Homo sapiens: one gene and its partners. The protein of the gene in region 5 purifies or fractionates together with the protein of the main gene of each other region. This does not show direct contact. Each region holds a gene or a part of one and is shown on either strand. Other genes may lie near its edges.

The links.
Region 1: the proteins of FADS3 (region 5) and LRRC8A purify together in Homo sapiens (co-immunoprecipitation; 3 studies listed by BioGRID and IntAct, with this or other methods). This does not show direct contact.
Region 2: the proteins of FADS3 (region 5) and CLPTM1 purify together in Homo sapiens (co-immunoprecipitation; one large-scale study listed by IntAct). This does not show direct contact.
Region 3: the proteins of FADS3 (region 5) and ALG13 purify together in Homo sapiens (affinity purification with mass spectrometry; one large-scale study listed by BioGRID and IntAct). This does not show direct contact.
Region 4: the proteins of FADS3 (region 5) and FNDC3A purify together in Homo sapiens (affinity purification with mass spectrometry; 2 studies listed by BioGRID and IntAct, with this or other methods). This does not show direct contact.
Region 6: the proteins of FADS3 (region 5) and ERICH5 purify together in Homo sapiens (affinity purification with mass spectrometry; 2 studies listed by BioGRID and IntAct, with this or other methods). This does not show direct contact.
Region 7: the proteins of FADS3 (region 5) and NAGPA purify together in Homo sapiens (affinity purification with mass spectrometry; 2 studies listed by BioGRID and IntAct, with this or other methods). This does not show direct contact.

What each region holds. Positions count from the first base shown.
Region 1 is NC_000009.12:128,888,633-128,892,132, forward strand, and holds part of LRRC8A (volume-regulated anion channel subunit LRRC8A), read left to right. Parts: intron 1-3,434; exon of another isoform or gene 3,435-3,500. UniProt on the Homo sapiens protein: Essential component of the volume-regulated anion channel (VRAC, also named VSOAC channel), an anion channel required to maintain a constant cell volume in response to extracellular or intracellular osmotic changes.
Region 2 is NC_000019.10:44,961,880-44,965,379, reverse strand, and holds part of CLPTM1 (putative lipid scramblase CLPTM1), read right to left. Parts: intron 3,418-3,500; coding exon 3,305-3,417; intron 1-3,304. UniProt on the Homo sapiens protein: Involved in GABAergic but not glutamatergic transmission. Binds and traps GABAA receptors in the endoplasmic reticulum (ER).
Region 3 is NC_000023.11:111,754,170-111,757,659, forward strand, and holds part of ALG13 (UDP-N-acetylglucosamine transferase subunit ALG13), read left to right. Parts: intron 1-3,418; coding exon 3,419-3,490. UniProt on the Homo sapiens protein: Catalytic subunit of the UDP-N-acetylglucosamine transferase complex that operates in the biosynthetic pathway of dolichol-linked oligosaccharides, the glycan precursors employed in protein asparagine (N)-glycosylation.
Region 4 is NC_000013.11:49,202,912-49,206,411, forward strand, and holds part of FNDC3A (fibronectin type-III domain-containing protein 3A), read left to right. Parts: intron 1-245; coding exon 246-373; intron 374-3,500. UniProt on the Homo sapiens protein: Mediates spermatid-Sertoli adhesion during spermatogenesis.
Region 5 is NC_000011.10:61,878,046-61,881,545, reverse strand, and holds part of FADS3 (fatty acid desaturase 3), read left to right. Parts: intron 1-1,394; coding exon 1,395-1,505; intron 1,506-2,036; coding exon 2,037-2,234; intron 2,235-2,698; coding exon 2,699-2,800; intron 2,801-2,911; coding exon 2,912-3,034; intron 3,035-3,267; exon of another isoform or gene 3,268-3,330; coding exon 3,331-3,391; intron 3,392-3,500. UniProt on the Homo sapiens protein: Mammals have different sphingoid bases that differ in their length and/or pattern of desaturation and hydroxyl groups.
Region 6 is NC_000008.11:98,071,068-98,074,567, forward strand, and holds part of ERICH5 (glutamate-rich protein 5), read left to right. Parts: intron 1-3,500.
Region 7 is NC_000016.10:5,027,640-5,030,935, reverse strand, and holds part of NAGPA (N-acetylglucosamine-1-phosphodiester alpha-N-acetylglucosaminidase precursor), read left to right. Parts: intron 1-442; coding exon 443-551; intron 552-1,927; coding exon 1,928-2,056; intron 2,057-2,750; coding exon 2,751-2,956; intron 2,957-3,042; coding exon 3,043-3,090; intron 3,091-3,296. UniProt on the Homo sapiens protein: Catalyzes the second step in the formation of the mannose 6-phosphate targeting signal on lysosomal enzyme oligosaccharides by removing GlcNAc residues from GlcNAc-alpha-P-mannose moieties, which are formed in the first step.

The DNA of each region.
Region 1 (3,500 bases), on a different chromosome or scaffold from region 5:
AAGGGTTTGGGCAAGGAGAGCATACAGGCGTGGCAGCCTCGTTTTGCGGGGCTGCGAGAGCGTCTGGCAGGATCGCGCTGGGAGTGAGGTCTGTGCCAGAGCTCCTGACATCTCACCTGTGTTTTTCAGGCTCACTGTCCTGTCGCTTTCCCTCCCCCACGTCACTTCCTCCATTCTTCCCCAGGAGTCTCTTTTCTCTCCCATACACTGCTTGGGAGAGAGCTGCAGAGCTGGCCCCTCCACAGATGGTGCTCAGCGTCTCTGGCTTCTCCTTCCTGCAGTAGCACCTTCATAGTCCGTGGTCATTCTCAGCACCATGTCTCAGTGCTGAGCCACAGGCTGGGATGCTGCACGCATTTGCCCATCTTACCTTCGCCACAGCCTTGCGTGTGAGGTTGCTTTACCATTTTACAGACCAAGCCCCAGAGGGATGAGGTCTCTGGCCCAAAGTTATACAGTGTACATGTGGCAAAGCTAGGACTTGAACCCAGGTTGGTATGGCTTGGCAGCTGGGGCTCTTTCTACTTCACCCTCCATTACCCTCTTTTCTCAGGTTCCCAGGCTTTTGGGGGCCTTCAAAGTCACCTGGAAGCTTGTCTAAAATGCTGTTCCCCTGGGCCCACCACCACAGACCTGCAGAGTCTGCCCTGGAAGGTTGGCCCCAGGAATCTGAACTTTGAAGATGCTTCCCCAGCAGTTGTGAGGCTGGTGGGCTACAAACAATGCTGAGAAACACTGACCGGACGCCATTCTTTCAGCCTTAGTCCCAGTCGTCTACCGCAGAACTCATGCCCTTGGTGTGGAAGCAGGGCTGAGCTCCCCACAGGACTGGGACTGGACAGGTTTTTTTTTTTTTGTTTAATTAATTAATTAATTATTTTGAGATGGAGTGTTGCTCTGTCACCCAGGCTGGAGTGCAGTGGCACAATCTTGCTCACTGCAACCTCCACCTCCCAGGTTCAAGCTATTCTCCTGCCTCAGCCTCCCGAGTAGCTGGGACTACAGGTGCCCGCCACCATGCCCAGCTAATTTTTGTATTTTTAGTAGAGACGGGGTGTCACCATATTGGCCATGGCTGGTCTCGATCTCCTGACCTTGTGATCCACCCACCTTGTTCTCCAAAGTTCCAGGACTACAGCCGTGAGCCACTGCGCCTGGCCAATTTTTTTAATTTAATTTTACTTTTTTGAGATGGAATCCTGCTCTGTTGCCCAGACTGGAGTGCAATGGTGCCATCTTGGCTCATTGCAGCCTCTGCCTCCTGGGTTCAAGTGATTCTCCTGTCTCAGCCTCCCAAGTAGCTGGGATTACAGATGTGCACCACCACGCCTGGCTAATTTTTGTATTTTTAGTAGAGACGGGGTTTCACCTTGTTGGTCAGGCTGGTCTCGAACTCCTGACCTCAGGTGATCCACCCACCTCGGCCTCCCAAAGTGCTGGGATTACAGGTGTGAGCCACCGCACCTGGCCAGACAGTTGTTTTTTAGTGGCTTCATTTTGTGTGTGTGTGTGTGTGTGTGTGTGTGTGTGTGTGTGTGCTGGGAAGGCGAGGGGCTTAACCTTCCCTCCTCAAGGACGTGTGGGGCTGAGGTTTCTAGAAGGGCTTTTACTCCCAGCCACAAATGTTCCCTGCTGTCTTCCAGATGCGTTTCTGTTGCGTCTTGCGTCTTGCAGCAAGTTTGTCTACATCTAAACGTCTCTTGAGGGCTTAAAACCTCAAAATTAAATTGCTTGCTGCAATCTAAGCCTCACGCCTAGAGCAATGTTCCAGTGGAGTAAAAGTGGCTGTAAAATTCCATAGCTTTCACGTGCCACCTGGACGCCGTCAGAGTGCCACTGCCAAACCTGCGCCCTCTGACGGGCAGCATGACAAACGCACTGACCAGCAGCGGGGGCGGTGGGCGGGAATCCTGGCCCTGAAGGGACACCTCGCATCTCCCAGCTGACTCCATGAGTCAGGATCCCTGGGGGTAGCCCCCTTCCATCCCAGAGAGTCGGGTACCAGGCAGCTCACCCTCTGTCAGACCCCCCAGTCCTCCCCCTGGCTCACCTAGGGCTTGGCCAGTGCCCACTCCCCTGGGATCTCAGCAGAAGATGTGTCTGCTGCCTCTCTAGGGTACTGGTGGCCACATTTCATAACCTGTCTAAGAAGGCAGCGCTGGTATTCATAACAGGTTAAGACCTGTAAACCGTGTGTGGCCGTGACTCCATGTGCAAATATGAGCCAACAAACGTTGGCTGGACGTGGCGGTTCCCACCAGTAATCCCAGCACTTTGGGAGGCTGAGGTGGAGGATTGCTTGAGCCCAGGAGTTCCAGACCAGCCTGGGCAACATAGTGACCTGTCTCTACAAAAATAAAAAAAAAATTAGTCCAGGCACAGTGGCTCAGCACTTTGGGAGGCTGAGGCAGGTGGATCACCTGAGGTCAGGAGTTCAAGACCAGCCTGGCCAACATGGTGAAACCCCGTTTCTACTAAAAAATACAAAAATCAGCCGGGTATGGTGACATGCACCTGTAATCCCAGCTACTTGGGAGGCTGAGGCAGGAGAATCACTTGAACCCGGGAGGCGAAGGTTGCAGTGAGCCGAGATTGTGCCACTGCACTTTAGCCTGGTGACAGAGTGAGATCCCGTCTAAAAAAAAAAATTAGCCAGGTGTGGTGGCATGTGCATGTAGTTCCAGCTACTTAGAGGTTGAGACTGGAGGACTGCTTGAACCCAGGAGTTCCAGACCAGCCTGGGCAACATAACAACCTATCTCTACAAAAAATTTTTAAAAATAGCCAGGTGTGGTGGCACATGCCTGTAGTTTCAGCTACTCGGAGGCTGAGGCTGGAGGATCGCTTGAGCCAAGGAGTTCAAAGTTGCAGTGAGTCATGATCGCACCATTGTGCTCCAGCCTCGGCGACAGCGCAAGATCCTGTCTCAAAAAAAATAAAACGGCCTGCCTTCTAGGCCCTTCTGCCCCCAGGGCCCAGACCCAACACTGCCTTCTGGCCCTAAACCCAGGGCTAGGCTCCCTTCCAGAGCTTCCTTATAGCAGTACCCGTGAGACCAGAGGCATCTGAGTATGGCCTGATGGGGTTCCCTGTAGAGCCCTGGTTTCCATGTACCCCCTAAGGAAAAGAGTATCTTGTCTCAAGAAGTATCTTCAAGGGCCTGGGTCCCAGGTGGGTCCGGGAGGCCTGCTTGTCTTTGAGGCAGGTTGGCACAATGGAAAGTCGGGCTTGGGGTGCATCTTCCCAGCTCTTCCTAGCTGTGTGGCCTTGGGCAGGTTACCAAACTTCTCTGGGCCTCCGACATCACACCCATAAAAGGACTGATTTAAACTCTACCATAATAATAACAGCAGTGAACGTTCCAGAGCCTTACTGTATGGCAGGCACTAGTCCAAAAGCTTTATATGGACTGTCTCCTTCTGTCCTCATCACAGCCCTCCAAGCAATAGACTTGTCAACCCATTTTACAGATGAGGAAACCAGAGCCCAGCGAGGTGAAG
Region 2 (3,500 bases), on a different chromosome or scaffold from region 5:
ACTACAGGCTTGTGCCACCACACCCAGCTAATTTTTGTATTTTTAGTAGAGATGGGGTTTCACCATATTGGCCAGGATGGTCTCGATCTCTTGACCTCATGATCTGCCTGCCTCGGTCTCCCAAAGTGCTGGGATTGCAGGCGTGAGCCACCGCACCTGGCGGGATGATTGTTGTAAACATCTCTGCTGTGCAATTCCTTCTATCTCATAAGTAGGGAAGCTGATTGCCTAACTGCATGGTGTGGTCTCTTATTTTGCTAAAATACATCTCCAAAAAGCAAAAAAAAAATAAAAGGAATATCTATTTTGCAGAGGAGTAAACAAAGGCTCAGAGCAAAGAAGGTGACTGTCACTAGGTCTAGGCAGGAAGGATAGAACCCAGTGCCAAGCATATTCCCCCGCCACCACCCAGCATCTCCCCAGGGCCTCAAACAGAAGCTGGGCTTTGAAAAAACAGGCCCTGGGGTCCCACTGCCCAGGAATAGCATGTGAACCCACAGGTAAAAGGGTCACCACCAGGCAGTCACAGAAGGACAAATGCTGTCTGATTCCACATACAGGAGCTAACTAGAGTAGTGAAAGAGAGACAGGAAATAGAAAAGTGGCTGCCAGGTGTTGCAAGGAGGAAGAAATGGGAAGCTTGTGTCTGATGGGTATGGAATTTCAGTTTGGGAAGAGTAAATTCTCGGGATGGATAATGGTGATGGGGGCACAACAGTGGAGATGTACTTAATGCCACAGGACTACATACTTAAAAATGGTTAAAATGGGCCAAGCGTGGTGGCTCACGCCTATAATCCCAGGACTTTAGGAGGCTGAGGCGGGTGGATCACCTGAGGTCAGGAGTTAGAGACCAGCCTGGCCAACACGGCAAAACCCCATCTCCACTAAAAATACAAAAATTAGCCAGGCGTGGTGGCAGGTGCCTGTAGTCCCAGCTACTCAGGTGGCTGAGGCAGGAGAATCGCTTGAACCCAGGAGGCAGAGACTGCAGTGAGCCGAGATTGCACTACTGCACTCCAGCCTGGGTGACAAAGTGAGACGCTGTCTCAAAAAAAAAAAAAAAAAAAAAAAAAAAAAAGGTTAAAATGAAAACATAGGTTAAAATGGTAAATTTGATGTTATGTGCAGATGTGGGCTGAATCATGTCTCCCAAAATTCATATGTTAAAGTCTCAACCTTCAGTACCACCGTGACTAGATTTAGAGACAGGGTCCCCCCAACTTTTTTTTGCGATAAGGTCTCACTCTGATGCCCAGACTGGAGTACAGTGGTGTGATCTCGGCTCACTGCAGCTTCAACTTCTGAGGGTCAGGCAGGGCCCAGTGGCTCACGCCTGTAATCCCAGCACTTTGGGAGGCTGAGGCGGGTGGATCATGAGGTCAGGAGTTCGAGACCAGCCTGGTCAACATAGTGAAACCCCATCTCTAATAAAAAAAAAAAAAAGCAAAAATTAGCTAGGCACTGGGTGCAGTGGCTCACGCCTGTAATCCCAACACTTTGGGAGGCCAAGGCGGGCAGATTGCCTGAGGTTGGGAGTTCGAGACCAGCCTGACCAACATGGAGAAACCCCATCTCTACTAAAAATACAAAATTAGCTGGGCATGGTGGCACATACCTTAATTCCAGCTGCTCAGGAGGCTGAGGCAGGAGAATCGCTTGAACCCAGGAGGTGGAGGTTGCAGTGAGCTGAGATCGCGCCACTGTACTCCAGCCTGGGAAACAGAGCGAGACTCCATTACAAAAATAAAAATAGGCTGGGTGCGGTGGCTCACACCTGTAATCGCAGCACTTTGGGAGGCCAAGGCAGGCGGATCATGAGGTCAGGAGATAGAGACCATCCTGGCTAACACGGTGAAACCCCATCTCTACTGAAAATACAAAAAATTAGCCAGGTGTGGTGGCGGGTGCCTGTAGTCCCAGCTACTCGGGAGGCTGAGGCAGGAGAATGGCGTGAACCCGGGAGGCGGAGCTTGCAGTGAGCCAAGATTGTGCCACTGCACTCCAGCCTGGGCGACAGAGCGAGACTCCGTCTCAAAAAAAAAAAAAAATACATAAAATAAAAATAAAAAAATTTCCAAGGCTCAAGTGATCCTCCTACCTCAGCCTCTTGAATAGCTGAGACTACAGGTACGTGTCACCATACCTGGCTTTTTTTTTTTTTTTTTTTTTGAGATGGAGTCTCACTCTGTCCCCAGGCTGGAATGCAGTGGCACGATCTCAGCTCACCGCAACCTCTGCCTCCTGGGTTCAAACGATTCTCCTGCCCTCAGCCTCCTGAGTAGCTGGGACTACAGGCACGTGCCACCACACCCAGCTAATTTTTGTATTTTTTTTGTATTTTTTATTTTTTTTGAGACGGAGTCTTTCTCTGTTGCCCAGGCTGGAGTGCAGTAGCGCGATCTCAGCTCTCTGCAAGCTCCGCCTCCCGGGTTCACGCCATTCTCCTGTCTCAGCCTCCGGAATTTTTTTATTTTTAGTAGAGATGGGGTATCACTATGTTGGCCAGGATGGTCTCGATCTCTTGACCTCGTGATCCACCCGCCTCGGCCTCCCAAAGTGCTGGGATTGTAGGTGTAAGCCACCGTGCCCAGCCAGATTTTTTTATTTTTAGTAGAGACAGGGTCTTACTATGTTGCCCAGGCTGGTCTCAAACTCCTGGGCTCAAGCAGTCCTTCCAACCTGGCCTCCCAAAATGCTGGGATTATGAGGGTGAGTCATTGTGCCTGGCCCAGATAGGGTCTGTAAAAAAGTAAGGTTCAGTGAGGTCATTATGGTGGGTACTAAGCCAGTATGACTAGTGTCCCCATAAGAGGAGCTTAGGACACAGACACACACAGAGGAAAGACCACATGAAGACACAGGGAGAAGACGGCCTTCTGCAAGCCCAGGAGAGAAGCCACAGAAGAAACTGCCCCTGCCCACAGCTGGATCCTGGACTTCCAGCCTTCAGAACTGTAAGACAATGAATTTCCTATTTCAGTTGTTTAAGCTACTCCGTCTATATTACTTGATACAAGGGCCCTAGCAAACTACTTCAGTATTTTTTGTGTTTTTATTTTTTCACAAATCAGGTAGCCCCCCAAAAACCAGAACAGGTTCAGGGAGACTCCCTACTTCAGTATGTTTTACCAGAGTAAAAAAAAGGTTTAGAAAACATTCCATCATACAAAAAAAAAAAGAAAAAAAGCAACTCTACCATACAGTAATGATCACCATCCTCAGCTGATCAGCTGACTTTTCCTTTCTTCCTTATTTTTATTTGAATGTTTTCGGTGAACAAACCCAAGTCCCGTCTGCTCACCTAAACAGCACACCTTTGATGACCTGCCAGGCATTGGGTGCCGGCTGGGCCGGTGGGTTCTGAGGCTGGGTCTCCGCTGGCGGGTCCCTCCCGATGCTGCCATTGCTGGTCACCTGTGGGGGACAGAGGCCAGGGTAAGGAGGGAGAATGGACACGGGGGCTGTCTTAGACACCATCATGCATGAAGGCCAGGCAC
Region 3 (3,490 bases), on a different chromosome or scaffold from region 5:
AACCACATGATTATCTCAATAGATGCAGAAAAGGCCTTCTATAAAATTCAGCACCCCTTCATGCTAAAAACTCTCTATAAACTAGGTATTGATGGAATGTATCTCAAATTAATAAGAGCTATTTATGACAAACCCACAGCCAATATCATACTGAATGGGCAAAAGCTGGAAGCATTCCCTTTGAAAACCGGTACAAGACAAGGATGTCCTCTCTCACCACTCCTATTCAGCATAGTATAGGAAGTTCTGGCCAGGGCAGTCAGGTAAGAGAAAGAAAGAAAGAAAGGGTATACGAATAGGAAGACAGGAAGTCACTTTGTCTTTGTTTGCAGATGACATAACTGTATATTTTAAAAACCCCATTGTCTCAGCCCAAAAGCTCCTTAAGCTGATAAGCAACTTCAGCAAAGTTGAAGTTGTGTGCAACACAAAATCAGTGTGCAAAAATCACAAGCATGTCTATACACCAATAATAGCCAAACCATGAGTGAATTCCCATTCACAATTGCTACAAAGAGAATAAAATACCTAGGAATCCAACTTACAAGGGATGTGAAGGACCTCTTCAAGGAGAACTACAAATCACTGCTCAATGATATAAGAGAGGACACAAAGGGAAAAACGTTCCATGCTTATGGATAGGAAAAATCAATATCATGAAAATGGCCATACTGCCCAAAGTAATTTATAGATTCAATGTTATTCCCATCAAGCTACCATTGACTTCCTTCACAGAATTAGAAAAAACTACTTTAAATTTCATATGGAACCAAAAAAGAGTCCATATAGCCAAGACAATCCCAAGCAAAAAGAACAAAGCTGGAGGCATCGTGCTATCTGACTTCAAACTATTTTACAAGGCCACAGTAACCAAAACAGCATGGTACTGGTACCAAAACAGGTATATAGACCAATAGGACCAATAGAACAGAACAGAGGACTCAGAAATAACACCACACATCTACAACCATCTGATCTTTGGCAAACCTGACAAAAACAAGGAATGGGGAAAGGATTCCCTATTTAATAAATGGTGCTGGGAAAACTGGCTAGCCATATGCAGAAAACTGAAACTGGACCCATTCCTTACATCTTATACAAAAATTAACTCAAGATGGATTAAAGACTTAAATGTAAGACCTAAAACCATAAAAACCCTAGAAGAAAACCTAGGCATTACCATTCAGGACATAGACATGGGCAAAAACTTCATGACTAAAACACCAAAAGCAATGGCAACAAAAGCAAAACTAAAATTGACAAGTGGGATCTAATTAAACTAAAGAGCTTCTGCACAGAAAAAGAACCTATCAGTGTGAACAGGCAACCTACAGAATGGGAGAAAAGTTTTGCAATCTATCCATCTGACAAAGGGCTAATATCCAGAATCTACAAGGAACTTAAATTTACAAGAAATAAACAACCCCATCAAAAAGTGGGCAAAGAATATGAACAGACACTTTTCAAAAGAAGACATTTATGTGGCCAACAAACAGGAAGAACTCATCACTGGTCATTAGAGAAATGCAAATCAAAAGCACAATGAGATACCATCTCATGCCAGTTAGAATGGCAATCATTAAAAAGTCAGGAAACAACAGATGCTGGAGAGGATGTGGAGAAATAGGAACACTTTTACACTGTTGGTTGGAGTGTAAATTAGTTCAACCATTGTGGAAGACAGTGTGGTAATTCCTCAAGGATCTAGAATGAGGAATACAATTTGATTTAGCAATCCCATTACTGGGTATATACCCAAAGGATTATAAATCATTTTATAAAGACACATGCACATGTATGTTTACTGCAGCACTATTCACAATGCCAAAGACTTGGAACCAACTCACATACCCATCAATGATAGACTGCATAAAGAAAATGTGGCACATACACACCATGGAATACTATGCAGCCATAAAAAAGAATGAGTTCATGTCCTTTGTAGGGACATGGATGAAGCTGGCAACCATTCTCAGCAAACTATCACAAGGACAGAAAACCAAACACCGCATGTTCTCACTCATAAGTGGGAGTTGAACAGTGAGAACATACGGGCACAGGGAGGTGAACATCACACATTGGGGCCTGTCGCGGGGTTGGGGGCAAAGGGAGGGAGAGCATTAGGACAAATACCTAATGTAGGTGACAGATTGATGGGTGTAGAAAACCACCATGGCACATGTATACCCATGTAACAAACCTGCATGTTCTGCATGTGTATCCCAAAACTTGTGTAATAAATATAAAAATAAAAATAGCTGCATTTTTAAAGCACTCATGTGTTCATAGATGCTTGCTCAACACTGTTTTTTCACCACTCCCCTGAGTTGTAGAGGCAGGTGGGTACTGACAAATGTCTTTATCAGTGAAAGGTGTCTCCGAGTTGAGGTGAGAGCTCTTTTATTTTAGTCTTTCAGGGATCACTTTCCCTCTGAAATACACTTGACTTAAAATGTAACAAGATGGCATATTTACTGAAAGGAATAATGCATCTTAAGATCTGTCAGATGATGATAAACTCTGTGCTCTCCTGGATAATGCTCAGATTAGTTCATATTCCCTGACACTGATTTCCCTGAAGCTTTAGACATGTCAGTGCCAAGAAAACTGTCTTCCCAAATAGTACACATCTATAAATTAAGAGTAATGGGGTGGGTTTTTGTTCTTTGAGACTATTTTTCCTAAATTTAGTTTCAAGAATTGATAAACCGCTTGCCCCTTCTGTTATGTTAGTTTATTATAGTCACATGTGGAAACTTTGTAATCTATTTCACTGAGGCATTTAAAAATATTCTGCCTTTTACATCATAGAATACCAGGAGATGCTGAATAGATATTTCAGTATTTTTCTTATTAGAAATCATAGTGTCCATTGTAGTACATTTTGAAAATACTGTGGTATAAAGAAAACTAAAATCACCTCTATGATCACTGTATACTTTATATATTTTCTTACAATTTTGTATTTTACAAACTATGGATTATGCTGTATAATTTTTAAATCTTTTAACAATACAAGCATTTTTTCTTTAAATATTTGACAGCATGATTTTCGTTGCCTGTATAGTATTTCATTACGGGTATATAATTTATCCAGTTCCCTGTTGTTAAATACTATGTGCAATGTTTTTTGCTTTTAAAAATACTATAAAAGACACCTTTGTATACAGGTCTTTTAGATTATTTCCTAAAAGAATTCTTAGGTTTAAATATGAGATACAAATGCTGCAAAAGATCCTAAAGTTCTAATAGAGAACAGACTGTCAAGTTTTTAGGTCAAAAAAGTCATTGCTACCTCACCTGAAAATCGTGGCCCAATTCTTATTTTTTTTTTTTTTTTGTCTGTGGGGAACTGTATTACATTAAGAATAGAGAAGAGTGAAGTTTCTTATTTTTTTGTTGCCCTTTCTTGCTCAAGTGCTATTACCACAGCTACTGGCACTCCATGGTCTATGTGCCACAGATGCAGCAGCAGCTTCATGTAGAGAAT
Region 4 (3,500 bases), on a different chromosome or scaffold from region 5:
TGCATTGAGCTATGATCGCACCACTGTTGTCCAGGCTGGGTGACAGAGTGAGATCCCATATCTTAGAATACAAGAGTGCTGATTTTAACCTCTTTGGATGCAAATTTCAAAAATTCACTGATACTTATTTCAAGTTTATAAGTGGATTTTAAATATTTGTTGATTTTTATTAAGACAAGTGTCTGCATGATGTACCAAATTAAAAATCAAGTGGAACAGATATTATTTATATTTGTTTCCTACAGCCCCCAAAATAGAGAAAGTAAATGATCACATTTGTGAAATTACATGGGAGTGTTTACAGCCAATGAAAGGTGATCCAGTTATTTACAGTCTTCAAGTTATGTTGGGAAAAGATTCAGAATTCAAACAGGTATGTACCAAGATATTAATGTGTGGATGCATATTTTTACCCTTTTTTAATTTTTATGTATTTTCAGTGTAAGATTTGGCCATCTTTACCTTTTAATTCATAAATATTTATTCAGTATATATTATGTTCCAGAGATCTCAAGATTCCAAATCTTTTCAGTATGAACTACACTTGAACAGATTATTCATTTATCTGATAAGTATTCATTGAATTCTGTGCCAGGCACTCAGGATATAGCACTGAACAAAAAGTCCCTTGCCTCCATGGAGCTTACTTACATTCTGGTGGAAAAGAAGACACTATAAGCAAGTAAACATGACAATATATTGTCAGATATAAGTGTAATGGAGAAAAAACAAAATTGGATAAAAGAAATAGGGAGTGGAGGGGGAGGGCACTGAGTGTTATTTCATTTGGGGCACTCAGCTGACATTTCAGCATGGCCCAGAGGAGATGACTATGGAGAGAAGAGTGTTCCAAGAAGATACGCTGAGGCAGGAACATGCCTATTAAATCTGATGAACATAAAGGAGCCAATATGACTGGATGGAGAGAGCAAAGGGAAGAGTTGATAAGGTCGGATAGTTAATCCTAAGGGGCCTATAGGTGGTATGGAGTGACGTAAGGCATAATAGGCCATACTGTGGCTTTTACTCCACGTGAAATGAGAAGACAGTGGAGGATTTTGACCAGGGTATTCACGTGATCAGACACAACGTTGTTTTGACTATAGTGTTGAAACTACAGTAGGACAAGGGCAGAACTAGAAAGACTAATAAGGAGGCTTTTACAATAATAGTATTAATAATAGTCATAATGCAGTGCTGTAAATATGACATTAGGCATGAAGTTATAATGGAAACCTAGAGGAATTGTCACCTTCCTAGCCAAGAGGTTTCAAAGATAGCTTTCTGATAAAGCAAGAATAGCAGTGAGATAGAGTGGAGTGTTGCCAATGTTTGTTACAACTTTTAAAAAGAATAAGCTTTTATACCACTCCAAAGACTAATTAAATACCTATACATTTCACCTGATTTTCCCTTTTTCCTGTAACCTTAATTTTGAGGGCTTTTAAGCTGGGTTGTTTTCATTGTGTCTTATATTTTCCTCTTCCACTAAAAAAAAGATCCTTCATTTGTTTTATTCCAGTATTGTGCTATTGTAACCACTCTATGTAATATCTTAACTGAAATTACAAAAGATCCAAAGAGTCAGATTAAATCTGGCATGCAATTGTTTTTCTTTATTAAGCCATCTGCAAATTGACAGGATAATTAGATTTGAAATGTAATTTACAGATAAGTAGGTTTCCTTCTAAGGAGGAAGCAAAATTAATATTAAAGAAAATATAATTGTATTACACGTTTAAAGGAAATAGGGATTCCACATTTGAGTAGTATATGAATAACCTTAAGGCTTGTTTGAATGACTTTTCTTGGGTGTATAAACCTTCTGAAATTAGCTTGAGCAGGTTAATCTGTTTTCTTCAGTCCTGTATTTACAGTTACCTGTGTCTCTTCCTGCTTAGAGGTCTTCCCACATCTGAAATACAAAATTGAAAACTTGATCCCATCATCTTCCCTCCCAGTATCTCCTCTCCAACATCTTTACTTCATCAGTGTCATAGACACCAATATCATCTTGGTCTCCAAGCTTTAAATTCTTAGATGAATTTTTTTTTCCTATCAACTCTTAATCAGAATTTGTTTCTAAATCCATAAAACTACATCAGGGCCTCATCACTTTTTACATGTACATCAAGAGTCCCTGTCCTACTCAGCTCCCTTCAGTCCTTCACACAGCCTCACGATTAGGATTCCATAAACACTGTTTTAATGTCACACACCTACAGTGGTCCCTTTTGAATTAACCTAAATTTCCAACTAGTGTAATTAATGTATTCTTCCTCTTTGTACCAGATCTCTTATCACCCTCATGCCATTTGTTGAGGTTTTTCTTTCTTAACCTAATACTGCCAGGCTCATGGAATGGTATATGAAGACACATGGAAAGTATAAAGACAAAAATCATCTATTATATCCATAAGACAAATACATATTTTTAATTTTTACTCAATTTACTTCAGTGTTATGTATACAATTTTACACTACTTTATCATACAACATTCTGTTTTAAGTGAATCCTTTTACAGGTTGAAGCATCCCAAATAAAGTCCAAAATTCAAAATGTTCCACCCAAAATCTGAAACTTTTTGAGGATCGATATGACACTCAAAGGAAATGCTCATTGGAGCATTTCCAATTTCAGATTTTTGGGTTTGGAATGCTCAACTAGTAAATATGCAACTATTCCAAAATCAAAAAAATTGAAATGCTTCTGGTTCCAAGCATTTCTTATAAGGGATACCCAACCTGTACCATCTCCCAAACATGGATCATTTCTACATTCTATTCCCTGAAACATTATGCATCCTTAGAACTAATGTATAGTCACCATTTTCTTTCAGATTTATCTTAAAGCTTCTTTCAGTAAGTTCCTTTATATATTGTTATCAGCATCCACATTTTTATTTATTGCCAATAATTCACTAATTTAATGTCCTTTTATTAAGTACCTACTATATGCTAGATTCTGGAGACAGAAAAATGAGACAGAGATCTTACTTTACTTTGAGAGCAAAGCAATATGTAAAAATTTAGATTTACATCACAGGTACAATTGAGGCAGCTAAAAGTACTTGAAAGCCCCCATGTGTTGGTTCTTCTGACTTGTAGCCCACCAACTAACTGGAGAAACTCAACTGACAAGTCATTTAACCCTATGAACCTTGGTTTTCTCAATTACAGAATGAGTGGTGGGAGGTTGCTCATTATTGGAAATGATAGCTCCTACAGATTGAGCAGTGACTGCATGCTGAGCACTGCGCTAAGTGCTTTAACAAGCATTAGTTCATTTCATCCTCATAATTATCATACATGTTAACTACTAGTATGTCTGTTATACTAAGGTAGTTGGTCTAAAATCACATCTGGAGTGTGAAGTGGTAGAGCAGACCTTGGATGCCAGGGGTGAACAGTTCTAGTATATAGCTTCTTATTTATGCCTAGTGTTCCATTATTGGAACACTAAGCTTGTGGTAGTTATTTATATCTCACTGATCAAGGTT
Region 5 (3,500 bases):
CCATGGGGACAACACCACCCAGCTACTGGTTCTATAAGCTGCTGTATGGCTCTGGCTAGCCCATTCAGAGAAAGCCTCTGAAAGTACAAGGAAAAAAATCAGTCCAAGAGCTGTGAACAATTAGTGAGCCGATTACAATACCAAGACCACAGGCAGACCTGGAAGGCTAAGTGAGCCCAGGTGTGAAGTTCAAGCTTACTTTACTTCTGGGCCACTTCCTGGCTGGTCTCTTTCCCTGGCCCTTATCTTTCTCCTGGTCTGTCTTCTCTTCTCACCCCCTTTCTTTACTCTTTCTTCCTTCTCCTGCATCGTACTCCACCCCCACTCCAGCTATTACACAGAATCGCGAGAATGTTGGATTATTCATTTTATTTATGATGTTTTCTTTTTTGTAAAAATAGAGACAAGGTCTCACTATGTGGCCCAGGCTGGTCTTGAACTCCTGGCCTCAAGCAATCCTCGTGCCTTGGCCTCTTACAGTGCTGGGATTACAGATGTGAGCCACCATGCCTGGCCCATTTTATTTACTTTAAAAAAAAAATTAGGCTGGGCGCGGTGGCTCACACCTATAATTCCAGCACTTTGGGAGGCCAAGGTGGGCAGATCAACTGAGGTCAGGAGTTAAAGACCAGCTTGGCCACCTGGGGTCAGGAGTTTGAGACCAGCTACTCCGGAGGCTGAGACCGGAGAATTGCTTGAACCCAGGAGGTAGAGGTTGCAATGAACTGAGATCATGCCATTGCATGCCAGCCTGGGCAACAGAGCAAGACTGTCTCAAAAAAAAAAAAAATTATGTTTTGTGCTCCTGCTTCCTGCTTTGTAAGTCAAATCAGTTTAACTGTTCAAGTGTCTTCCTTGCAAACCCCCAAGGACTCAATGTGTGTCGCCCTTGACTGATCCCCCCGCCCCGTGACCCAGTGGTCCTCAGTTCCAGGTTTTCCCACCTACCCTTCACCCACTGCTTATGTTTATAAAAACGGGGTAAATCAAATGTTCGTGACCCAGATCTTATTCTACATGCAGTGGAAACTTGTATGACTTAAGCTTTTTGGAAAAGCAGAACCTTTTTTCGTGGTTCAAGAAATCAAAGTCTTCCCGGGAGGTCTTTCTGTAAATCCAGAGCTGCAGATGTTTGACCGTGTTCAGAGAGGGGCCCTTGTGCTGGGTGAAGTGGATGGGGCACAGCAGGCAATGGGTGAAAAGCAGGACAACCTGGGGCCCTGGGAGGACCAGGGAGGGCCCATGTCTTTGACTGTTCATCAGCCGGCTGACTTCCTGTCCGCCTGTCGTCTGCTCTGCCCATCCATCCGTAGTCCTTCCGCCTGTCTCTGCTGGTTGCCGCTGTGCTACTCAGCTGTGTCTGTCTGTCCGCCTGACTGTCTGCTCTCCTTCAGGATGCCTTCCGTGCCTTCCATCAAGATCTCAATTTTGTGCGCAAGTTCCTACAGCCCCTGTTGATTGGAGAGCTGGCTCCGGAAGAACCCAGCCAGGATGGACCCCTGAATGTGAGCCAGAGCCCTAGGAGAGGCTCAGCCCCTGAGGGAGGGGGATGGCTGGAGGGCTGGGAGACATTGCCACATGGCCAGGAGCAGCTCCCTCGGCATTCGCCCAAGGGGATGCAGAGCCAGGGCTGAGCCTGCCCTCCCCTCCCAGGGGGCAGGCAGTTGAAAGTGAAGCTGTAGGGATGCCCTGAGAAGTCCAGGGCTCCAGATCTGGTTTAGCCAGGCACCCGTTTGGATCCCGAGGCAAGCTCCCTCCCTGTTGTCGCCCAGTGTCCCCATCAAAAGGAGGATTTTGATGAACTGATTTCTCTCCTGGCTGTAGCGTCTTACCCACCCCATACCTTTTGGGAGGGAGAGGAGGCTTCACCACCAGCCAGTGCTCCAGCTCACACCCCGGGCTGGGTACTCTTGTCACTTCATTCCTCTTTGCCCACACCCCTTGGGCCTGGCGATGGGAGGAGCGGCTGGGGCTCCAGGAGAATGGGGGTGGGGAGGAATTTCTTCCTTGGCTGATCGGCCCCTCTGCTATGGCAGGCGCAGCTGGTCGAGGACTTCCGAGCCCTGCACCAGGCAGCCGAGGACATGAAGCTGTTTGATGCCAGTCCCACCTTCTTTGCTTTCCTACTGGGCCACATCCTGGCCATGGAGGTGCTGGCCTGGCTCCTTATCTACCTCCTGGGTCCTGGCTGGGTGCCCAGTGCCCTGGCCGCCTTCATCCTGGCCATCTCTCAGGTGACCCCAGTTCTGTGTTGCAGCCACCTTAACTGCCCAACAGACGTGGGCCCCCATGCATCTGGGCATTGTGAACATATTTGCTAAATGAATGAATGGACCTATGAAAGGATGAATGGATGAATAAACAGATGAATGAGTGAACAGTCTGAAGGCCCATCAGGCATGTCTGTGGGTCAAGCTGCATTCCAGATGAGCCAAGAAGTTCCTTCTTGAACAGATTCCGATCAAGCACAGGGCCACTGAGCCAGAGGCTGCTGCCCTGCAGCTTCATGACACTTACGAGCCCCTCCACCTCCCTGGGACTCAGTTCTCATCTGTAAAAAGAGGACACTGGCCCACAAGGGTCTTGAAATGGAGCATTAGCACGGGGGTACCCTGCAAGCTGAAAGGATTCACTGGGGCCCCAGGCCCTGGCGGGCTCCGTCCTTCCCAACAGCTTCTGACCCTGCCTCTCTCCCCAGGCTCAGTCCTGGTGTCTGCAGCATGACCTGGGCCATGCCTCCATCTTCAAGAAGTCCTGGTGGAACCACGTGGCCCAGAAGTTCGTGATGGGGCAGCTAAAGGTGAGGGTGGGGTGGGTGGTCAGCCAGGTGCTGGGTGGCGCTGGGTCTGCCCAAGTGTGTGGGCACAGTCGGGGGCACAGCCTGCCCTGAGAGCCCCCTCCTCCTCCACAGGGCTTCTCCGCCCACTGGTGGAACTTCCGCCACTTCCAGCACCACGCCAAGCCCAACATCTTCCACAAAGACCCAGACGTGACGGTGGCGCCCGTCTTCCTCCTGGGGGAGTCATCCGTCGAGGTGGGTGGGGAGGGACGTGGACAACCTCTGGCTGGGCCTGCAGCTGAGGGGGAGCTAATGCACTGGGTCCCCACTCTGCCCCTGACCTAGCCCCTGATCTGGCCTCCACTCTGGCTGGGCCAAGCTCTGCCCCCGTGTCTTTCCTTCCCACCTCCCAACCTGCTGGGGACGACCAGCCCGCTTGCTAGAATCTAGAGTTGCCTTTGACCCTTGGCCCCAGCCAGCCCCGTGACCTTGCCCGGGAGAAGGAGGTGGCCTGGAGAGCTGCTGTCTCCAGCCGCCGCCTGTCTCCACAGTATGGCAAGAAGAAACGCAGATACCTACCCTACAACCAGCAGCACCTGTACTTCTTCCTGAGTGAGTGTCCATCTGTCCTTCTGGGGTGGGGGAGTGCCTGGGCCTGCACTGTCCTCCCTGCTGTCCTGGACCACTCCCAGCCACTTCCTGGGGCGGGGCACGTCTGTCA
Region 6 (3,500 bases), on a different chromosome or scaffold from region 5:
AGCCTGGCCAACATGGTGAAACCCCGTCTCTACTAAAAATACAAAAATTTTCTGGACGTGGTGGCAGCTGGTGGTAGCTAGGACCCGTAATCCCAGCTACTCGGGAAGCCGAGGCAGGCGAATTTCTTGAACCTGGGAGGTGGAGGTTGCAGTGGGCAGAGATCACGCCATTGCACTCCAGCTTGGGTGACAAGAGCAAAACTCCCTCTCAAAAAAAAAGAAAAAATCATGCTTCTGTAAGGTGGCCCCACAACCAGCTCATGTGTACAGTTTCACTTCTATGTTAATGTTTTACAATATCAAGTTGAAAGAAACCCTGAATACGTGTGGGGGTTAATGAAAGTCTCACCAAAGCTGATAAAAACTTGATGAGGCTTCTAATCCTAGAGTGTGTGTGAGTAGTACTAGGTAATTTTTTTTTCTTTTTTAGAGACAGGGTCTTGCTCTGTTGCCGAGGCTGGAGTGCAATGGTGCAATCATAGCTCACGGCAGCTTGGACTCCTGGACCCAAATTATCCTTCCACCTCAGCCTCCTAAGGTGCTGGGATTACAGGCATGACCCACTGTGCCCCACTGTAATTTTTTTTTAAAGCAAAGTGCCAGACTATAGCTCTCCAGGTGTGTTTATGTCTTGAAAGTCCTGTAATGACTTCAGAAGCTTCTTCACCCATCTCAGGGCTATTGCTGTTTTTCACAGTCCTTGAACCACTTCTTGGGAATTGCCTTCGGGCTCTCAAGTTCATTCATTGTATATAATCAAGGGTGTCTGAGCTTTGTCCTTTAAGGATGAATATTGAAAAAAACAACAATCCACATTGTTTTTATTTTATTTTTTAAGTTTTATTTTATTTTTTTTTTTTGGTAGAGACTGGTTCTCACTATGCTGCCCAGGCTGGTCTCAAACTCCAGGCTTCAAGCAACCCTAATACCTCAGTCAGCCTCCCAAAGTGCTGGGATTACAGGCATGAACTACCGTGCCCAGCCCCACATGGTTTTTAGCAGCTAAAACCCCCTAGGAATTAAACCTTATGAAGGTGGGTGAAATAAGACAGTCAATGCTGGAGTGCATGATTTAGTACTACCTAAGTTGTTTATATCAGAGTTTCCCAGCCTGTGAGAATGGTTTATAGCCATGCCAGCATTTCTCCTAGCCTTTAGGGCAGCCAGGTGGGATCCTGACAGCCTGAGCCATCTGGAAGCAGCTTCCTCCATTTGTTGAAGTGTGATGCACAAATATCATATTCTGTGTATGTCATGACATTGAAAAGGATCAGGAAGTGTTGGTGGCCGGGTGCAGTGGCTCATGCCTGTGAGCACAGCACTTTGGGAGGCCAAGGCAGGAGGATCACCTGAGGTCAGGAGTTGGAGACCAGCTTGGCCAACATGGTGAAACCCCATCTCTACTAAAAATACAAAATAAATTAGCTAGGCATGGTGGCACACGCTTGTTGTCCCAGCTACTCAGGAGGCTGAGGCGGGAAAATCACTTGAACCTGGGAGGTAGAGGTTGCAGTGAACCGAGGTTGTGCCACTGCACTGCAGCCTGGGTGACAGAGTGAGACTCCATCTAAAAAAAAATTAAATTAAAATTAAAATTAAAAAGGAAGTGTTGGGATGTGCATTCCAGCTGCTCTGTCATTTTCACTAGTAGTTTCTTTTGCTTAGAGATAACATCTGCCTTCAGCCACCCCAGCAAGGACTTTTGTTGAAATGTTCTCCCTAAAACATTCTCTTTGCTTATTTCTTTTCCTCACTGTTAATGATAATTATAATGAACCTTTTGTCTTTTATTTTTTTTCTGTAAGGTGATTTTTGTGTGTGTGCCTGTTTCTGCCTCTTCCCATTTTCTCAAGACTCTGATATAAACCACAGAGTTTCTTTTTTGCTAATTTCCTTTACTTAGTACTTAATCTAAAGGTATAGCACCTGTAGACTAGATGTTATGGGAGGTTCTGGTTACCTGTACACCTTGCATTAATGTATGGGTATGAAGTTCAACATTTCATTTCAACTGAAAGACAGTATAGAGTGCTGATTAAGAATGTGGGCCTGGAGTTAGACTGGGTTCAAATCCTCGTTCAGGATCAGTTATTAGTTGTGTGACTTTGAGCCAGGTACTGACCCTCTCCATGCTGCTTCATCTACAAAATAGGATCAACAATAGTACTTCATAGAGTTGAGGAATAAATAAGTTAATACATATAATGCACTGAGAATATAGTCTGGGCCAGGAACGGTGACTCATGCCTGTAATCCCAGCACTTTGGGAGACTGAGGCAGGAAGCTTGCTCTTTAGGCCAGGAGTTCAAGACCAGCCTAACCAACATAGTGAGACCCTCTCTCTCTCTCTCTCTCTCTCTCTCTCTATATATATATATATATATATATATATGTATATATATATATATATATATATATGTATATATATATATATATATATATATATATGTATATATATATATATATATATATATATATAATTTTTTTTTTTTTGAGGCAGAGTTTTGCTGTGTCGCCCAGGCTGGAGTGCAGTGCTGTGATCTTGGCTTACTGCAACCTCCTTCTCCCGGGTTCAAGTGATTCTCCTGCATCACCGTCCGGAGTAGCTGGGATTACAGACGGGTGCCACCATGCCCGGCTAATTTTTGTATATTTAGTAGAGACAGGGTTTTACCATGTTGGTCAGGCTGGCCTCGAACTCCTGACCTCAGGTGATCCACCCACCTCGGCCTCCCAAAGTGTTGGGATTACAGGTGTGAGCCACTGCACCCAGCTTTTTGTGTTTGTTTAAAATCAAGTTCTAGATCCCTGAGTTTGTTGATTTCCTCACTTTTTAAATTTTTCTCTCTTTTTCTTTTTTTTTTTTTAGAGACAGGGTCTCACTCTGTCACCCAGGCTGGAATGCAGTGGCGCTATCACAACTCACTGAAGCCTCGACCTCCCACCTTAGCCCAGCAGCTGGGACTATAGGCATGCACCACCACACCTGGCTAATTTTTTTTTGTTTTTTGGAGAGTTGACATTTTGCCATGTTGCCCAACCTCGTCCCTAATTGCTGGACTCAAGGTATCCGCCTGCCTCAGCCTCCCAAAGTGCTGGGATTATAGGTGTGAGCCACCTCACCTGGCCTTCCTCACTTTTTAAAAAAGTAAATTTATTTAAAGAAAAATGGTGACAAAAATATTAAGTCAATAATAGCACAAATGGTAAAGAAATATTCAAAAATCATAAAAGTGGTATGCGAATGGCTACAGTTTATGAGACAGTTTTTCTAAGGCTACCAGGTCTTCTTATTTAGCTAGATTACTTGCTCTTATATTTTTGCTTCTATAATTTTTTTATTTTTCATTTTAATTTACTTTTTTTTTTTTTTTGAGACAGGGTCTCACTCTGTCACCCAGGCTGAGTACAGCCTCAACTTCCTGGATTCAAGTGATCCTCCTGCCTCTGCCTCCCGAGTAGCTGAGACTACAGCTGTGCACCACCATACCCAGCTAATA
Region 7 (3,296 bases), on a different chromosome or scaffold from region 5:
AAAGAGTGGGCGGTCAAGGAAGGCCTCACTAAGGAGGTGATCTGACAAAGGAGCAAGCTAGAGAAAAGCACAGTTCCCAGCCAGAGGGAACAGGAAGTGCAAAGTGGCTGCAGGGTGGTGAGGGGACACCCAGGAGCTGAGGCAGGAGGAGGAAGAGGCTGGGGAGGGCATGCTGGCTCTTTGGATTTTGTTCTAAGAACAGGGGAAACCATTAGAGGGTCTTCACCTGGAGGCTGGCATAGCTTGGTTTACCTGTAAGAAGAGACCCCCCGGCTGCCCTGGGGAGACTGGGATGTGCAGAGGGGAGGCAGGGAGACGAGCAAGGAGGCTGCTGTGCTTCCCAGGGAGGTACCAGGTAGCTCAGACCAGTGGGAAGTGGAGTTAGGCAAGAAGCAGGAGGCCTCCCAAGGGGCGGTGATCAGCCAGGCTGCTTTTCCTTCAGGTTCCTTTAGCAAATTTGTGAATGTGATATCAGCCAGGACGGCCATTGGCCACGACCGGAAAGGGCAGCTGGTGCTCTTTCATGCAGACGGCCAAACGGAGCAGCGTGGGTGAGTCCTGGGAGCTGAGGCCCCCCGGCCGGGGCTCAGTCCTGCTAGGAGGAACGTTGACCCAATGACAGCCACCCTCTGACTCTACCTGCTTTCTGGGATGTTGACACCTATCTGTCCCCCCTCCCAGGGCCCCCTCACCTTCCCACAGGATGAGGGTTCTGAGATCTTTGCCGATTCCAAGAACTCATCATCTTCAGCTTTAGGCCTCACCTTTCCTGAACCCTAGATAGGATACAAGGAAATGGTCACAAAGTGAGCAGGGAGAAGATCTTGGTTCCAATCCCAGCTTAGCCATCGATGACTTGTCTACCCACCTATGCCGTAGACAAGTCCCTCGGCCTCCCTGAGCCTCATTTCTAGCCCCTGTAAAGAGAGTGTTTTGGTTTGCTCTGGTTGCATAACCAGCACAAATTTAGCAACACTCAGCAGGGAATGTTCTTTTGTTTGTTTGTTTCTTTGAGACAGGGTCTTACTCCGTCGCCCAGGCCAGAGTGCAGTGGTGCAATCTCAGCTCACTGCAACCTCTACCTCTCAGGTTCAGGTGATCCTCCCACCTTAGCCTCCCAGGTAACTGGGATTACGGGCACCCGCCACCACACCCAGCTAATTTTTGTATTTTTAGTAGAGATGGGGTTTCATCATGTTGGCCAGGCTGGTCTCGAACTCCTGACCTCAGGTGATCCATCTACCTCGGCCTTCCAAAGTGCTGGAATTAACAGGCGTGAGTCACCGCACCTGGCTAATTTTTGTATTTTTAGTAGACACAGGGTTTCATCATGTTGGCCAGGCTGGTCAACTTGGAATGTTCTATGTTCAGGGTGTCCCATGGACAAAACCAAGATGCTGGTTAGGCAGGGCTCTTCTCTTATCTGGAAAGAATCCTCTTGTTTAGGTTGTTGGAAGAATCCCCGTCGCCTCCTCAGTTGTGACTGAGGTCTTGGTTTCCCTGCTGGCCGCCATCTGGGGCCTCAGCTCCTTCAAGCTGCCCAGGTTCCTTCCCATGTGTGTCCTCTCCCCCAGTTGTCCGGCCACCCTCTCATCCCCCTCGTATTTCAAATCTCACTTCCTATTCTGTCACCAGCCAGAGAAGGCTCTCTGTGTTGAACACTCCTGTGATTCCAGTGGCTGCACCCAGATCCTCCGGGCCGTTTCCCCTCCCTTAAGGATTCCTATGCCATGTAACAGCACAGGCATGGGTGTGATCTCACGTGTTCACAGCTTCCGGGGGCTAGGATGAGACATGCTTGGGGGCGGGGGCCACTTAGAAATGTGCCTGCACTGTGGGCGTGATGCTCTGCACTGTGGAAGGAAAAGGAGTTAAATGAGAAATGATGGTGGGCGCTGAGCCTGAGCAGCGCCGCTTTGTGCCGCAGCATCAACCTGTGGGAAATGGCGGAGTTCCTGCTGAAACAGGACGTGGTCAACGCCATCAACCTGGATGGGGGTGGCTCTGCCACCTTTGTGCTCAACGGGACCTTGGCCAGTTACCCGTCAGATCACTGGTAAGCACGTGAGAGCCGCCTTCGTGAGGGCTGAAGTCCAGGTCTGCCCCAGCCTGTCTCATTCAGCCAATATTGAGTGCCTGCTATGTGCCAGGCCCCGGGGGTTCAAGAGAGCAGAAATTGCTGCAGTCCCTCCCCCAGGATGCCAGTACTACCCAGGCCTAGGAGCAGGGTCAGTTGGTCAGCAAAGACCTCCCTGAGGATGACAGAATAAGAACTGAGATCTGAAGGAGGTGGTAGCTGGGTGGGGGTGGGAGAGCCTTCCGGGCAGAGGGCACCACATGTGAAAGGCCCAGGGCTGGGAGGGATTGTAGGGAGCGGAGGAACCTATAAAAGACTGGAGAGGGCTGGGCACAGGGGCTCACGCCTGGAATCCCAGTGCTTTGGGAGGCCGAGGTGGGAGGTTCGCTTGGGCCCAGGAGTTTAAGACCAGTGTGGGCAACATAGACCCTGTCTTTATGAAAAAATAAAAAAAAATTAGGCAGGCGTGATGGTGCACACCTTACGGTTACAGCTGCTCAGGAGGCTCGGGTGGAAGGATCGCAATACCTCATCTCAAAAATAGATAGACGCCATCTTGTAGGTAGGTAGGTAGACAGGTGAGAATGGAGAGAGGGGTGGTTGGGGGCAGCCTGGAGGGAGTTGAGGGGCCGTCTGGGGGTGTCCTCTCCTCACACATCACATCCCTCTACAGCCAGGACAACATGTGGCGCTGTCCCCGCCAAGTGTCCACCGTGGTGTGTGTGCACGAACCCCGCTGCCAGCCGCCTGACTGCCACGGCCACGGGACCTGCGTGGACGGGCACTGCCAATGCACCGGGCACTTCTGGCGGGGTCCCGGCTGTGATGAGCTGGACTGTGGCCCCTCTAACTGCAGCCAGCACGGACTGTGCACGGAGAGTGAGTGGGGGTTCTGGGGAGGGGGCTCTGCCCAGCCCTGCCTTGCCCTAGGCCCTCACCTGGCCTCCCCGGTCTTGTCTCGGCAGCCGGCTGCCGCTGTGATGCCGGATGGACCGGGTCCAACTGCAGTGAAGGTAGGAGCTGCCACGCCACTAGCGGATGGGGAGACGGTGGCCCCCGGCAGCCCCCACTGCTCCTCTGCTGCTTCTGTCTCCACCTTCTGGTCTGGGAAATGCTTGCCTCTTGTCTTCTGCCCCGGCCTCACCTGCACATCACTGTGTGACTCCCCTGTGGCTGCTGCGGCCCGTTCCACAAAGGGCTCGGCTAAAACAAGGGTCCC